Homo sapiens: one gene and its partner. The protein of the gene in region 2 purifies or fractionates together with the protein of the main gene of each other region. This does not show direct contact. Each region holds a gene or a part of one and is shown on either strand. Other genes may lie near its edges. The genes, in order: CENPF and ESAM.

What was found.
Region 1: the proteins of ESAM (region 2) and CENPF purify together in Homo sapiens (affinity purification with mass spectrometry; one large-scale study listed by BioGRID and IntAct). This does not show direct contact.

The regions. Positions count from the first base shown.
Region 1 is NC_000001.11:214,640,938-214,644,745, reverse strand, and holds part of CENPF (centromere protein F), read right to left. Parts: coding exon 1,422-3,808; intron 190-1,421; coding exon 1-189. UniProt on the Homo sapiens protein: Required for kinetochore function and chromosome segregation in mitosis. Required for kinetochore localization of dynein, LIS1, NDE1 and NDEL1.
Region 2 is NC_000011.10:124,759,484-124,763,851, forward strand, and holds the start of ESAM (endothelial cell-selective adhesion molecule precursor), read right to left. Parts: upstream 2,808-4,368; 5' UTR 2,672-2,807; coding exon 2,602-2,671; intron 1-2,601.

The DNA of each region.
Region 1 (3,808 bases), on a different chromosome or scaffold from region 2:
CTGTTCCCCAGAGCACTCTCCTGTGGGTTTCACTGCACCAGTCTCAGTTATTTTCTCAATGTCTAGATTGAGGTCCTGCTGAGCATCTTTATCACAAATCTGATGAACATCATGCTTTGGTGTTCTTTCTGTAGTTTCTGAAGTATGTTCTTTTGATATGTCACAGCTCTCATTTCGGCCTTGAATAGCCTGTAATTATAATACATAACAAGCATGCATTTTATTTTTCAAAAAGAATCAAAATAGAATAGATTTAGTTATTACTTTTTAGAAACTGATGCGTGGCCTCTGCTAAACACATCTCTTAAAGTGGTGAATTTCCCACTACATCTTTCTCTCTTCATTCAAATGTTCAACATACTTATACGTTCAGTAAGTGGCCCCTATGGGCAAGACACTGGGGTTAGGCATTTATCTTGAAGACAAACCCTTCGGCTCAATTACAATTTGTAATGTATTTAAATTTCATATTTTTCCCTTGCTAAGAATATTCAGGTAGCCTAAATATGAAATCTCTTTGTAATTATTAAATAAGAGGCTAACAAAATGCTCAGCTTCCACCTTCAGCATTTATGATACTCTTTAATAAGGCAGTAAAGTTTCATAACCAGATTCCCAGTCCAAGGACTTAATCCCCAATCCAGCACTTACTGTACATTATTGGATAAATTACATATTTGAGCCTCACTTTCCTCTCATCTGTAAACTGGGGATCTGCTGTTGCACCTACACCTGCCATCACCTCACCATGACCTGCCTTCTCTACCTCACAGAGATAGACAGAGGAAATCAAGTGACATGCATACACTATATAGCATTATTAATTAAGCTAGCAGGCTAGAAAGGACAAAGTTACAAGCAATTAAACAAATATGTATTCAATTTTTTAAAAGCCCTTTTAAATGACTTATACCAAATCATATTTTTGTACCACAGTAAATTGTTAGAGAGAAAACTGTTTAGTAATACATAAAGAATCTGCTGTATTTAGTTTCATGACGATAATGCCATAACATCAAAAATAGTCTGAAAAGTGGGAGAGATTAAAAATTTACATATTACCATTTGTAAGTTCTTAATTATTTCAGTATACTTTATTAATGCACAAAGGGTGGAAACACACATTCTAAAGACTTTCTGACTCCATAATATAATTTTCTCCAGACTTTAAAAACATCTTTAGTAATATTCTATATAATGCTATGTAAATCTAATCCCTATAGAAATTTATTCCTCAAATAACGTTTACTCATTTTCCTCAAGTTCTGGTTTGTTTTGAAAATATTTTGGTGTATTTTATTTCCTTGAACCCTAAAAATATTTTAACTTAGGTTTAATGTACATTTCAATTAGACAAACATTTACTGAGTGTCCACTAGTCATGTAAACCGAGAAATGGCATTTAAATCCCAGGTACTTACATCTTCTGTGTCGATGCCAAGCAAAGACCGAGAACTTAAGTCCAGACCTTGTAGCTGGAGTCGTGCTACTTCCAGCTCAAGTGACAGTTGTTCCGTCTGTTTCTTTTCTGCCGCCAACTTGGACTCCATCTCCAGAGTCACGCTTGTCAGCTTCTGTTGCCACTGTTCATTTTCTGACAAATACTGCTTCCTAAGGCAGTCAAGCTCTTGCCTTTCAGAACTTAATAACTGCTCGAGCTCTTGAATTTCCTTATTTTTCATAATCCCTTGACTTTCCATTTTCTCTTCTAGCTTCTCGAGGGACTGCCGGTACACCTCACAGAGGGACTCAAGCTCTTCAACACCCTTCGCTGGGGCCGAAGGGGTTTCTTTCCTGGTCAGATTCTCCTCCTGCAGACTGCTGCAAAATACTTCATCTACACTGCACTGGTTTGCTGAAACAGCCCCTTCTAAATTACTCAAAAGAGACATATCTCCTGTCTGTTCTAAAAGAGCTCTGTAAAAGGAGGAGTCTCCCAAACTGCTAAGACTAGAGCTGTCAGGCACACAAGAGGATGACAGGGATGGAACGAGCCCCTCCTCCAAGCCCAGCTGCATCTCCTTCACCAAGTCACCTTGAAAGTTTCTCAGATTCGTTGACAAGACCAAATTTTCGGCCTTTAATGAGTCAACATAGGTCTGCAGCTCTGACATTTTAGAGCTCATCTGACAGTGCTGATCATGTAAAATTTTGTGTTCACTTTGTAAAGATAAGAATTTCTCTTGCAATTCGGCAAAGTGCATTTGAACTTCTTTGTCTGACAATGTCAAGTGCTCGTAGGAATTACTCTCGTCCAATGGAGCCAAAGACACAGGGTGCTGTTCATTTGGTTGTTCACCAAATTCACCTCCTGGTATGTCTTCCACTAACTCACCATGGAGAAGACCACTGTCATCATTTAATATTTTAACTTCATTTAGTAGTTTCCCTACCTCTTCTGCCATTTTCCTAGTTGCTGTGATACATTCTGACCTTGAATCATTCAGCTCAGTTACGAGTTCATACTTTTCAGCCTGCAGTATTTCACATATTTTCTCTAGCTCATTCAGCTTGTTCATTGTTGTTTGCAGAGAGCACTGAAGGTGTGCATTGTCGTTTTGACTTGTTGACAACTCATGAGGCCCTGAAATATACTTTTCTTCCGCATCTATTTCACAGTCTTTAAGGCCACTAATTTCTTGTGACTGCATGTCTTGCAAATTGCTGGTTTCAAGATCTCCTCTAATTGTCTGTAATTCATGCTGCAGGCACTCCTTCTCCTTCTCACTTTCCTGAAGTTTTAATTCCTTATTTCTTAGCATAGCTTCTAATTGCACCAACTGCGCATTATAACTATCTAGAGAAATTTCTTTAACTTCAAGATCCATCTGAGGTTTAAAATTACATTGATTTCTCTCACTCTCTCTTTCTTTCACAGAGTTCCTAATTGGTTCTGATTCTAGATTTTGACATTCATGTTTAGTCTTCATTACCTTCATCAGCTGTTCATTCTCTTGTAATAAGTCATTAACTTCCTTTTGCATTTTGTTTTGTTCTTCCTTTAAAGTCATGATTTCTTGCTTTAAACCACCAGCCTCGCTCTTAGAATTGTTTTGGTTATCTGTCATCTCAGATCTCAGAGCTTGCTGCACTGTCTCCAACTCTAGCATCAGATTCTGATTTCTTTCTTCAGCAAATGCTAATTTTGTTAAGAATTCTTGGTGTTCCTTTGCAAATGCTTCCTTTAGCTGTTCCAACTCATTTTTCCTATTTTCACAAAGACTAGTGCATTCATTTAGCAAGCATTCTAATTTAGAATTCTTTTCCTGTGCTGCTTTGTATTTTTGACTAAGATCCTCATATGCATTTCCGGTTTCTTCACATCTTTGTAGTAAAATAAGTTTTTCTTGCTTGTACTGATCAGATAACTCTGAAATGCTTTTCTCCCTTTCATCTATATAGTTTGCAAAACTCTCACTTTTCTGGATTAAGTTCATCTTCTCTTGATTTAAGGATGCATTAATTTCCTTAAGAGTCCCATTCTCTTGGGTCAGCTCTTCAATTTCCCTTTTATTTAGAGAAATGATGGAACTCATTTCTTTCTTCTCCAAGCTTAGGGTTTCGGATAAAAGTTGTAGCTCCTTTAGAGAGTCTTCAAGTAGATGGTTGCTCTTTTTTAATTCTTGAATCTCTGCCTGCTCAGTTTCTACCTTATCATTTAAAAGTTGCAGCTCTTTTTCCTTGTTCTCAAGGGCACTTAAGGTTTCAGCAACAACATTCTGGTGAGCAGAAGTGTCTTCCTGTAACTTACTAATGCGCTGACTTGTTTCAGCCACAAAACTTTGATGCATCTGTTCTGCTTTCATGA
Region 2 (4,368 bases):
GGGCCCTACTCCCTCCAGGCCTCGGCCCTCTGCCTCGGAGCGGAAGACGCCACCTCCGCGTGGCGAGCAGGCGGCCAACGCCGCGGGAAGAGGCCGCAGCCAGGCCCCGCTCTCCACCCTCGCCCTAGGAGAGCCAGGCTGAAGGCCTCTAAGGGCTGGGAGCCGATCCGGCCAGGATGCAAGCCTCCCCCACCGCTTCCCGGCTGCGCCGTACAGAACCCCCACCTCTGTTACTTGGCCTTCGCAGCATCCCCCTTCCCATTTCCTGGAGGATCTCTGTGGTCTGGGCAGGAAATTTGTACCCAGTGATAAGGCAGAAGACAATGAAGGGGGGGCCACTAGACCGGAGGCTCTACGGGAGGAAACAATCCCCGCCTCAAGGAGCTGGACGCCCCCTGGGGACCCGGCCCGCTGGCCATTCCGCTGAGGCCGGGCACGCCTGGAGCCTGCAGGTGCTGCCGGCTCTCCCCCAGCCTTTCTACGACACACACCCGGCGGCCAGAAAGGGTTTCCGCCGGGAAACTGCCTGGGGCCCAGAAGGGGCGCGCCCTTCCTTCACCTTGTGGACCACCAGCGACCTCCCCAGGTCCCACATTTATAATTCCACTTTCCAGAAGGTAGAGGAGAGTTAAAAGAGATAGTAACGGACACACTGGGGTCTGGGCACATGCTCCTTGCCCTTCGCCCTGTCAGAAACTAGGAACAGAAGAGGGCCTGAGGCTTTTCTGCTCTCCCTCCTGGGTGTCTGCTGGCTCGGAAGTCACCAACTGGTCCGTTTTTTTCGGTCCCAGGGTCCACGGAGCCACTGGGAGAGAAAAGGAGTCTGGTTGGGTCTGATCGAAGGACACTGGGACAGCCCAAGAAAGGGACCCTTCCGGCCCACAGCCCTCTCCGAGGCCAGAGTGAGGGAGCCGGCAGGGGCCGAAGGAGAGCGAAATGGGCCCGCTCCCCGGGGCTATTTTTAGTCTCCCTCTTTCTCTGAGAAACTCCCCCCGCGGGCTTCTCACGCCCCAGGGGCAGCAGCACTGAGCCGCCGAGGAGCCTACTGAGCCGGAGAGCCTCCTCCAGAGCCCAGAAGAGCGGAGCCGGGCGCCTGCACGTTGCACCGGGGTCACCAGTGCCATTTAACCCTCGAGTGGCTGGCGGGAACTGGGCAACCCCCCAGGGGGACCGATTGGAACTTTTGAGTCCAGGTCTTCAGTCTGACAAACTGAGGCTCAAAGCTGGGGTAGGACAAAGGGTTGCAGATGAGCAGCAGGTGAAGCCTGGGACACTCAGGCAGTCAACTTGAACTGTCCTCCCTGGCTTCAGAGATTCCCCCAGCCCCCACCCCCCACAAGGAAGGGGGATAGAGTTGGGGTGGAATGCAGAAGGAACAGAGCTGAAGTTGAAGTTGGGAAAGGCGGGATGAGAAGTCTGAGGGATCCTGGAGCAGGCCCACCAAGCCCAGAGGGACAGAAGGCTACTTGTGGCCTTGGTGTGGCCTGGGGGGCTGTACTTGAGACTCATTTTGTCCAAGGACTATAATATTGCATGCCCCGACACCTGTGGGGCACAGAACATGCTAAAGGGGACACTGGTGATCCTCATCTCTGTCCCCATCATTGTAGAATTTCACTCTACAGCTTCCCAGGCCTTACTTGTCCTGACATCCTCCAACCTGAGAAATGAGTTAAAGTCAATATAGCTAAACCCACCCTTCACTCCCATTCGAGATCCTTGAAGGGAGATGGCAAGAAAGCTGAGGGACAGCAAGTGAAATAGTTTAAAAGGGCCTAGTCCTGCCGGGTCCTCTCCCAGATGGAGTTCTGAGCCACCCCAGCTTCAGCTGAAGCCAGCGCCCCTGGAGGCCTACAACACTTCCCAAACACTTGCTCCAAGGAGGTTCCCTTCCTCTCTGACCCTTGGCCACCCTCCTCCCAATTTCCCCTCTTCCCTTTGGCTCTGGAAACCAATAAGGGTGGTGGGCCTTGGGGGGGTGGGGTGGTCACAATTCTGTTTCTCTGTGCGTTTGAACCCCTCCCCCATTTCCTGTGTCCCAAATGACCTCACGGTCGTCCTTTTGGGGCACCTCCCTTGATTCCCAGGGCAGGAAGCAGGAGGGGGCAAGAGAGAGCATCTGCGCTGGGGAATTGACACGAAGTGCGTGTGTCAAGCCTGGGGACCAGGGGTATTTCCCCGGGGGATCTTCCTCATCAGCTTGTATGTGGGGTCGGGGATGAGAGGGGGCTAGAGTTAAGTCCTTAAGCTCTTTAGCCAGTGTCTCATCTAGCGGCTCAGCTCATCCGGCTCTGCTGGGTGGGGGGTGGGGAGTGGACAGGGTGAGGAATGGTTCCGATAACTCACCCCAGAGGTATCCAGGTCTTCCGAGAGATGCCCTTACCTCCCCCCGCCATCCGCCCCCACACCCAAACTGGGGGCTGTCCCCGACAAAGCGAGAAGTCAGCGCCAGCCAGTGATGCCCTGGAGTGGGATTAGGAGGTCAGGGGAGGAGGGCGAGTCGTGGGACCCAGTTCCGCAGCAGTGGCCAAAGTTCTCCCTCAGGGTCGAACTCACCCCATCCCGCATCCCAAGTCCCCTCCAGGTCCGGGTTTCACTCACCGAGGGCACTCAGCCCCAGGAACAAAAACCGCAGCAAGTTGGTCACCAGGGGCCCCGGGAGGGAAATCATGGCCCTCCCTGGCCGGGACGGAGTCAGGGGCGCCAGCCGCGGGACGCACGGACCTGCAGGTGCCGAGGCTGCGCGACGGCCGGAGCGTGCGCGGGAGCCGAGCCGCTGACACCCAGGGCGGCTCCAGCCCAAGTCTGCGCGCCTGTGTGCCGGTGGCGGGGTGGGGACCGACGGCGACAGCGGGGCGGGGCATTCGAGGGGGCGGAGAGGTCGCCGTCCTCCCGGGCGGGGCGCGCGGGGTCCGCCGCCCGGGGGCGCCCCCAGCGCGCGGACGGCGGGACCCTGCGGCCTCCTCCAGGTCTGGACGCAGGGAGGGGTGAGGTAAGCTCTGATGCCCCACGAGCCAGCCAGGTACGAGTAGAGGGGGAAGAGGAGGCTCCAGAACTATCCTGAGCCGTAACCTTCCCTTCCGCCGGGGTGGGATAGGAAGGGTGACCAGGAAGGGTGGGAAATTTGGGGACTATCCGAAGTCAGAACCACCCGTAACACCTGACATGTAAACGCTCCTGGGCTCTGGCTCCAAACTTGGGGGTGCCGCATCCCCGGCCCAATCAGGGCGGTCTTCCTGAAGGAGGAAGAGGGGAGCAGCGTTTTCCAGCTGCAGGGAGAGGCCGGAGCGCCGGCCGCGCGGGCTCCCTGGCACAGCGGGAATCTGTGGCTTTCCTGGAGGCGGGGGCTGCGCGGCCACCGGAGCGCGGCAGCGAGGGCGACGGCAGAGGTCGCGCGGGAGCCCAGGGCGCCCCGGGACGCGCCAGCGGGGAATCTTCACCCGCGGGCAGGAAAAAGCGCTCCGCGAGTTCAGCAGACCCCAGCCCAGGCTGGAGGATTACCCCGGCCTGTGCCTCATACTCCGAGCAGGGAAGGTTGGCACAAGGTAGTCCCGGGAGCTGAGCAGGAAACTGAGGCAACGTGCGTGCTGCTCCCAGCTTAGCCCCTGAAATGAGCGGCGTACGGGCCTGATGCTGACTGGGGAGGAGGGGCGGCTGCGGGAAGGAAGACAGGACAGTCCCTCCGTTTCTTCTTTATCCCCCAAATCTTCAGTGCCTCCCATCCCCGCAGCGAAAGGCTCAGGCGCGCTCTGATCCTTTAATTCCCGAGACTAGATCTTGGTCGCTGTGAATTGAATTTTACGCCCCCCTTCCCGCGCCATTCGGTCAAAAGGCACCTCTGCGCCCTCTGGCGGCCGCCGCTCCCTTACAGAAAGGCACGCACCTGTTCTTGCTTTTCTGTCCAACAGCCAAAAAAAAAAAAAAAAAAAAAAAAAAAAAATGCTTCAAACATCCCAGCACAGCTCAACCACCCAGCAAAGGTCAGTGAGGGAAGAAAGCATAACAACGAATTCCTGACGCTGCCCGCTCTGCGGGCAGAGCTGTCTGGGAAGAAAAGCAGCCAGGCCTGCGGGATTCCATTTACTGCACATAGTTTTGCTGTTTTAACAGAGTGTAGTCCCTGGGCCCACACTTCACACAAGATCTTTTTCTATACAGTGCCCCATATGCCCTCTCAGCTGCTTCTTTCTAGTGTGACCTGCCTGGCTCCTCTTCAAATACCTGCCATGCAGTGGCTTTGAGAAATGCCTATGCAAACACAAAACTGCTCATGCAAACCCTAGAATCTAGTACTTGGCAGCTCAGTGGAGGCACAGACAACAGGAAGAGATACCTGCCAGTCTCACACTCTTGTGTAGGGAGCTACAA